Homo sapiens: one gene and its partner. The protein of the gene in region 1 interacts with the protein of each later gene in a pairwise test. Each region holds a gene or a part of one and is shown on either strand. Other genes may lie near its edges.

Region 1 (3,828 bases):
TACCCATGAGCATGGAATGTTCTTCCATTTGTTTGTATCCTCTTTTATTTCCTTGAGCAGTGGTTTGTAGTTTTCCTTGAAGAGGTCCTTCATATCCCTTGTAAGTTGGATTCCTAGGTATTTTATTCTCTTTGAAGCAATTGTGAATGGGAGTTCACTCATGATTTGGCTCTCTGTCTGTTGTTGGTGTATAAGAATGCTTGTGATTTTTGTACATTGATTTTGTATCCTGAGACTTTGCTGAAATTGCTTATCAGCTTAAGGAGAGTTTGGGCTGAGACAATGGGGTTTTCTAGATATACAATCATGTCGTCTGCAAACAGGGACAATTTGACTTCCTCTTTTCCTAATTGAATAGCCTTTATTTCCTTCTCCTGCCTAATTGCCCTGGCCAGAACTTCCAACACTATGTTGAATAGGAGTGGTGAGAGAGGGCATCCCTGTCTTGTGCCAGTTTTCAAAGGGAATGCTTCCAGTTTTGGCCCATTCAGTATGATATTGGCTGTGGGTTTGTCATAGATAGCTCTTATTATTTTCAGATACGTCCCATCAATACCTAATTTATTGAGAGTTTTTAGCATGAAGTGTTGTTGAATTTTGTCAAAGGCCTTTTCTGCATCTATTGAGATAATCATGTGGTTTTTGTCTTTGGTTCTGTTTATATGCTGGATTACATTTATTGATTTGCGTATATTGAACCAGGCTTGTATCCCAGGGATGAAGCCCACTTGATCATGTTGGATAAGCTTTTTCATGTGCTGCTGGATTCGGTTTGCCAGTATTTTATTGAAGATTTTTGCATCAATGTTCATCAAGGATATTGGTCTAAAATTCTCTTTTTTGGTTGTGTCTCTGCCCAGCTTTGGTATCAGGATGATGCTGGCCTCATAAAATGAGTTAGGGAGGATTCCCTCTTTTTCTATTGATCGGAATAGTTTCAGAAGGAATGGTACCATTTCCTCCTTGTACCTCTGGTAGAATTCGGCTGTGAATCCATCTGGTCCTGGACTCTTTTTGGTTGGTAAGCTATTGATTATTGCCACAATTTCAGCTCCTGTTATTGGTCTATTCAGAGGTTCAACTTCTTCCTGGTTTAGTCTTGGGAGAGTGTATGTGTCCAGGAATTTATCCATTTCTTCTAGATTTTCTAGTTTATTTGCGTAGAGGTGTTTGTAGTATTCTCTGATGGTAGTTTGTATTTCTGTGGGATAGGTGGTGATATCCCCTTTATCATTTTTTATTGCGTCTATTTGATTCTTCTCTCTTTTTTTCTTTATTCGTCTTGCTAGCGGTCTATCAATTTTGTTCATCCTTTCAAAAAACCAGCTCCTGGATTCATTAATTTTTTGAAGGGTTTTTTGTGTCTCTGTTTCCTTCATTTCTGCTCTGATTTTAGTTATTTCTTGCCTTCTGCTAGCTTTTGAAAGTGTTTGCTCTTGCTTTTCTAGTTCTTTTAATTGTGATGTTAGGATGTCAATTTTGGATCTTTCCTGCTTTCTCTTGTGGGCATTTAGTGCTATAAATTTCCCTCTACACACTGCTTTGAATGCATCCCAGAGATGCTGGTATGTTGTGTCTTTGTTCTCGTTGGTTTCAAAGAACATCTTTATTTCTGCCTTCATTTTGTTATGTACCCAGTAGTCATTCAGGAGCATGTTGTTCAGTTTCCATGTAGTTAAGCGGTTTTGAGTGAGATTCTTAATCCTGAGTTCTAGTTTGATTGCACTGTGGTCTGAGAGATAGTTTGTTATAATTTCTGTTCTTTTACATTTGCTGAGGAGAGCTTTACTTCCAAGTATGTGGTCAATTTTGGAATAGGTGTGGTGTGGTGCTGAAAAAAATGTATATTCTGTTGATTTGGGGTGTAGAGTTCTGTAGATGTCTATTAAGTCCACTTGGTGCAGAGCTGAGTTCAATTCCTGGGTATCTTTGTTGACTTTCTGTCTCGTTGATCTGTCTAATGTTGACAGTGGAGTGTTAAAGTCTCCCATTATTAATGTGTGGGAGTCTAAGTCTCTTTGTAGGTCACTCAGGACTTGCTTTATGAATCTGGGTGCTCCTGTATTGGGTGCATATATATTTAGGTTAGCTCTTCTTGTTGAATTGATCCCTTTACCATTAAGTAATGGCCTTCTTTGTATCTTTTGATCTTTGTTGGTTTAAGGTCTGTTTTATCAGAGACTAGGATTGCAACCCCTGCCTTTTTTTGTTTTCCATTTGCTTGGTAGATCTTCCTCCATCCTTTTATTTTGAGCCTATGTGTGTCTCTGCACGTGAGATGGGTTTCCTGAATACAGCACACTGATGGGTCTTGACTCTTTATCCAATTTGCCAGTCTGTGTCTTTTAATTGGAGCATTTAGTCCATTTACATTTAAAGTTAATATTGTTATGTGTGAATTTGATCCTGTCATTATGATGTTAGCTGGTTATTTTGCTCATTAGTTGATGCAGTTTCTTCCTAGTCTCGATGGTCTTTACATTTTGGCGTGATTTTGCAGCGGCTGGTACCAGTTGTTCCTTTCCACGTTTAGCGCTTCTTCAGGCGCTCTTTTAGGGCAGGCCTGGTGGTGACAAAATCTCTCAGCATTTGCTTGTCTGTAAAGTATTTTATTTCTCCTTCACTTATGAAGCTTAGTTTGGCTGGATATGAAATTCTGGGTTGAAAATTCTTTTCTTTAAGAATGTTGAATATTGGCCTCCACTTTCTTCTGGCTTGTAGCCTTCATTTCATTCATTTCATCTTCCATCGCTGATACCCTTCCTTCCAGTTGATCACATCGGCTCCTGAGGCTTCTGCATTCTTCACGTAGTTCTCGAGCCTTGGTTTTCAGCTCCATCAGCTCCTTTAAGCACTTTTCTTTATTGGTTATTGTAGTTATACATTCTTCCAAATTTTTTTCAAAGTTTTCAACTTCTTTGCCTTTGGTTTGAATTTCCTCCTGTAGCTCGGAGTAATTTGATCGTCTGAAGCCTTCTTCTCTCAGCTCGTCAAAGTCATTCTCCATCCAGCTTTGTTCTGTTGCTGGTGAGGAACTGCGTTCCTCTGGAGGAGGAGAGGCACTCTGCTTTTTAGAGTTTCCAGTTTTTCTGCTCTGTTTTTTCCCCATCTTTGTGGTTTTATCTACTTTTGGTCTTTGATGATGGTGATGTACAGATGGGTTTTTGGTGTGGATGTCCTTTCTGTTTGTTAGTTTTCCTTCAAACAGACAGGACCCTCGGCTGCAGGTCTGTTGGAGCACCCGGCCGTGTGAGGTGTCAGTCTGCCCCTGCTGGGGGGTGCCTCCCAGTTAGGCTGCTCGGGGGTCAGGGGCCAGGGACCCACTTGAGGAGGCAGTCTGCCCGTTCTCAGATCTCCAGCTGCGTGCTGGGAGAACCACTGCTCTCTTCAAAGCTGTCAGACAGGGACATTTAAGTCTGCAGAGTTTACTGCTGTCTTTTTGTTTGTCTGTGCCCTGCCCCCAGAGGTGGAGCCTACAGAGGCAGGCAGGCCTCCTTGAGCTGTGGTGGGCTCCACCCAGTTGGAGCTTCCCAGCTGCTTTGTTTACCTAAGCAAGCCTGAGCAATGGCGGGCGCCCCTCCCCCAGCCTCGCTGCCGCCTTGCAGTTTGATCTCAGACTGCTGTGCTAGCAATTAGCGAGACTCCGTGGGCGTAGGACCCTCCGAGCCGGGTGGGGGATATAATCTCCTGGTCCGCCGTTTTTTAAGCCTGTCGGAAAAGCGCAGTATTCGGGTGGGAGTGACCCGATTTTCCAGGTGCCGTCTGTCACCACTTTCTTTGACTAGGAAAGGGAACTCCCTGACCCCTTGCGCTTCCCAAGTGAGGCAA
Region 2 (3,928 bases), on another chromosome or scaffold:
TTGCAGTCCATAGGTTTTCAGCTAGACGTGACACACAGAAACTCACCATGAGGAGCCTTTCTCTTTCTTGACTGTAAAATATACATACTCCAGAATCATCAATAGAGGCTATTTCTTGAATATCTCAACCTGAACCCCGCAGCCAGAAAGAATGTAGGCAATTAATCCAATTTTATAACTGCAGCTGATATTCAGCTAATTACCTGCTGTTCTCCTCAGAAATTATCAAAATCCCCAAAGCAGAGAGTTCTCTGGATAAAGGCACTAATGTTCCCCTTGGAGGCTTTTAAGACATTGGCAAAATTAAAGGAATCTTCCTGTTTTCCTTTTATTCATCTAAATGATTTATCTAACTGGAGAAGAAAGCTTCAGTGCAAAAGGCATCTGCTAATTAGATTCAATTTTTTTTTAACATTTAAGGGAAACAGGGTCTATACTTCACCTAATAAAACTGATGAAATTATCAGCTAAATGCAAAGAGAATCCACAAACAAATTTATACAAGTTCTAGAGAGAGGATGAAGCCCTGAGCTCAGGGGCCTGTTAGAGATGGCACGCTCAGTAATGGTGCACCCTCACAGATTTTCCTTCTAGTTCAGTTCTAGTGATTACTGGATTACTGTTTTCCCCCAATACCATCTATTATTCTTTATACTGTCAAATAATTTTTAATCTTAAAATGACTAATTCTGAGTTCAGGCATATGGTGTCTGGCCACCTGCAAGAAGTTTAGGTGACTTTGCCAATAAGAATGATGGATTTGTAATTAATAAGTAATGTTGAAAGCAAAACTTGCATTACAATTCTGAAATTAGTCCAGCGGGGATACAGGCAAGAAATAAATTAACAGACAGATTAATACACAGTGATATATTAGAAATTAAGTAAAGGTTCTTTTTGTATTTTCCCCAGCTTGTCTTATAGTATTCGCTTCTTCTGTTTGGATAACTTTCCCCAGGAGATTCATTTTAAAACTTAATTCACTTAAAATAACGTATTTTTTTTTATTTAAAAATACTGTCAGCCCTCCACATCCATAGGTTCCATATTCATGGATCCAACTAATCTTGAATAGAAAATATTCACAAAAGATTTGCACAAGTTTCTTCAGAGAAACTTTAAATTTTCCATGCATCACATTCTTTTTGAGTTCACATAAATGACGTGACGTCTGGGCATTGCATTAAGTATTGTAAGTAATCTAGAGATCATTTAAATTATATAAATTAATGTGATTATGTTATATTCAAATTCTACGCCGTTTTATACAAGGGACTTGAGTATATACAAATTGTGGCATATTTAAAGTTTCCTAGACCCAATCCTTTATGTTTACTAAGAAACGACGTACACATGAACTTTACAGAAAATAACTGTCCTACCAAATTAATGAACAGACTACAATAGAAAGTAAATATTGCTAGTTTAAAATACTGTTATTTTATGTCACAATTATATGGTGAATCAGAGTAGAGATCTTGAATTAATTTTGATTGAATTAGGCTAATTCTGACTGGGTCACACTCATATTGACTGAGTTTTGATAAAACCACTCCCATGCTGGCCCTTCATGTTGTTTAATCAGCACCACTAGCCAATCACATTCATCCATTTTGACAAATCCCATGGCTCCACCTCTTATAAGACCCTTGGAGGATTTCCCCAAGAGCTCACTCTACCAAAGCACCATTTGACCGGTCCCAGGCCAGGACACACTCTTCCATGCTCTGGCTGTGCTGTGCTAGAGGCTGATAATTTTTCTCCAGGTAGAGTAAAAGATCAAGGCACGAACTATATAGATTTACAGAAAATAGGCCAAAGATTGAGATTTTTTTGACACAAGCAAGTCCAGAGAACTTTTACCATGTATGGTTACCGGCGCTTAAGAAGCCCCAGAGATTCCCAGACAGAACCGCAGAATGACAATGAAGGAGAGACCAGGTATGTTGGAGTATGTGGCTACTTTGGGTTGCCAGGAGGTTGACATGTGACTGTGTGTGACTGTATGTGTGTGTGTGTGTGTGAATGTATGCTAAAGGGCCAAACTAGGGCAGAGAAGACACCCTGGCCTGCCATGACATTGAATGTTATAAATTTAGAACACATTGGGGAGACATGAGACCCACAGTGGAGGCCACAGGATGCAGCCAGCATGGGGGGTTTCTGCAGCCTGTCAGGGGGCTCATCTCATGTTTCTTCCCATTGTTAATCTCTGTCCTCTGGGTAAACAGAAGTTGCCTCTTGTGTGGAGACAGGTAAACTGTGGGCATGATCTAAATTTTTTCCTTGTGCTCACTAGAAAATGGAACATTTCATGTCATTTATCACTCCATTCACACTGTAACTGCATAGACACAGGGGTTAGATACCCGGAAAATCAGCATCTTCTCCTAAAGTCCTCGGGCCAAATTTGATGTCCCTCCTTCTCATGTGGATGAGCTCCTGAAAAAGCAAACTGTTTCCTGTGATCGCCATGTCTTATCACACACATGCACCGATAGGAAAAGCCTCTAGAAAAGGAGAGGGTGGGATATGAGTGTTAGGACTTTCTGGATGCAGGTAGGATTTGGAGCTGAACACAAGTGCATGTGATTTTGGGCCACAGCAGCAATGTGTGCCGGATGACTAATGAAGTTTGGGGCTTGTGAGAATTGGACTTTGTGTCACTATGTGGAAGATTGATGGGTCCCTTTCTGTCCTGCAGTTTGGCTACCACACAAATGAATCCACCCAAACGTCGCCAAGTGGAGCAGGGTCCCAGTACAGGTAAGGCACTTTCCCTAATATTTTTTAAGATTCCCATGCCTGGAAGTCAGTGTCATGTCTCATGATACCATAAATGGAGAGGGTGCTTTCTGCAGGGTGAGTGGAAAGTCGTGCTTGACTGTTGGGGGCTGGTGTCCTGAGGCTGGCCAGTGCTGGGTGGTGGATTTCTGAAGGTCACATTCTGAAATGCAAGAGACTCTTGCTGGAAGAGAGCCTTAACCTCCCTCACTGTGGTCTCTCTGCAGGTGCAAAAAAACCCTCAATTTCAGGAGCTCCACACCTGAATTCATACCAGTCCCTGGAACTTCCCCAGGTAAGTTCCTGTGTCCTTGCATAGCAAAGATTGGACAGTGCTGCACAATCTTCAGGTTCAAGGGACATCCAGTGGATGTATATTTAGGTGGATTGGCATGAGCACCAATTCTGGGAGGGAGTTTGTATTTTAAAGTTGTAAAGGGTGAAGCTCCTGGCATCTCCCTCCCCATGAGCATCATTTGCAGCCTTTTTGGAGGGCAGAATACTGAGGACTGTCTTTCCACAGAATCAGCAGGATTCTGGCACTGAGGAGCTCATGATAGTCCTGGAACAAGGGACAGAAGTGAGGTTGAGCCTGGAAGAGGTCATCCTCATCTTGGCCCCAGAGACAGTGCTGCAGCTGACCCTGGAGAACACAGTCCTTGTGATTGTCCCTGAGCATGTCCTGAGGTCAGAAGATGGCCTGCAGTCCCCTGTGCAGATCCAGTACATCATACCTTCCGTTGATGACTTCAGCTTGGAGTTCCATGCTCAAGATGGAGACATCTCAGACATGAGAAGAGAGAATGTGCCTTTTTCACCTGCAGAAGAAGGGAAGGCAGCACCCCTGTATCAGCAGCCCTTGATGATACCCCAAGCAAACCACATGGCTGGGATCAGCCCTTCTTTCCTAGTAACCCCATTGTGCATTCCACGCTGTCGGGCAGCCTTCCCCCAATGCTACCCTCTACCACCCACACCTAGTCCTGTGGGACGCCCTAGACCAGCCGACTCCAGTTTCAGCCTGCATGGTATGGAGCTCTTGTGCACCTCCTCCCTCAGACCTATGCCCCCTTCACCAAGTCCTGGTCCCCAGGTCTATCACAGGGTTCACCATAGGCCTCCCAGCAGGGCACGGAGATGTCTC

The links.
Region 2: the proteins of IQUB (region 1) and PRR23D2 interact in a two-hybrid assay, tested with the Homo sapiens proteins (one large-scale study listed by BioGRID).

The regions. Positions count from the first base shown.
Region 1 is NC_000007.14:123,524,327-123,528,154, forward strand, and holds part of IQUB (IQ motif and ubiquitin-like domain-containing protein), read right to left. Parts: intron 1-3,828. UniProt on the Homo sapiens protein: Adapter protein that anchors the radial spoke 1 (RS1) complex to the A microtubule of outer doublet microtubules in axonemes. The triple radial spokes (RS1, RS2 and RS3) are required to modulate beating of the sperm flagellum.
Region 2 is NC_000008.11:7,779,173-7,783,100, reverse strand, and holds the start of PRR23D2 (proline-rich protein 23D2), read left to right. Parts: upstream 1-1,687; 5' UTR 1,688-1,864; coding exon 1,865-1,941; intron 1,942-2,704; coding exon 2,705-2,766; intron 2,767-3,011; coding exon 3,012-3,079; intron 3,080-3,307; coding exon 3,308-3,928.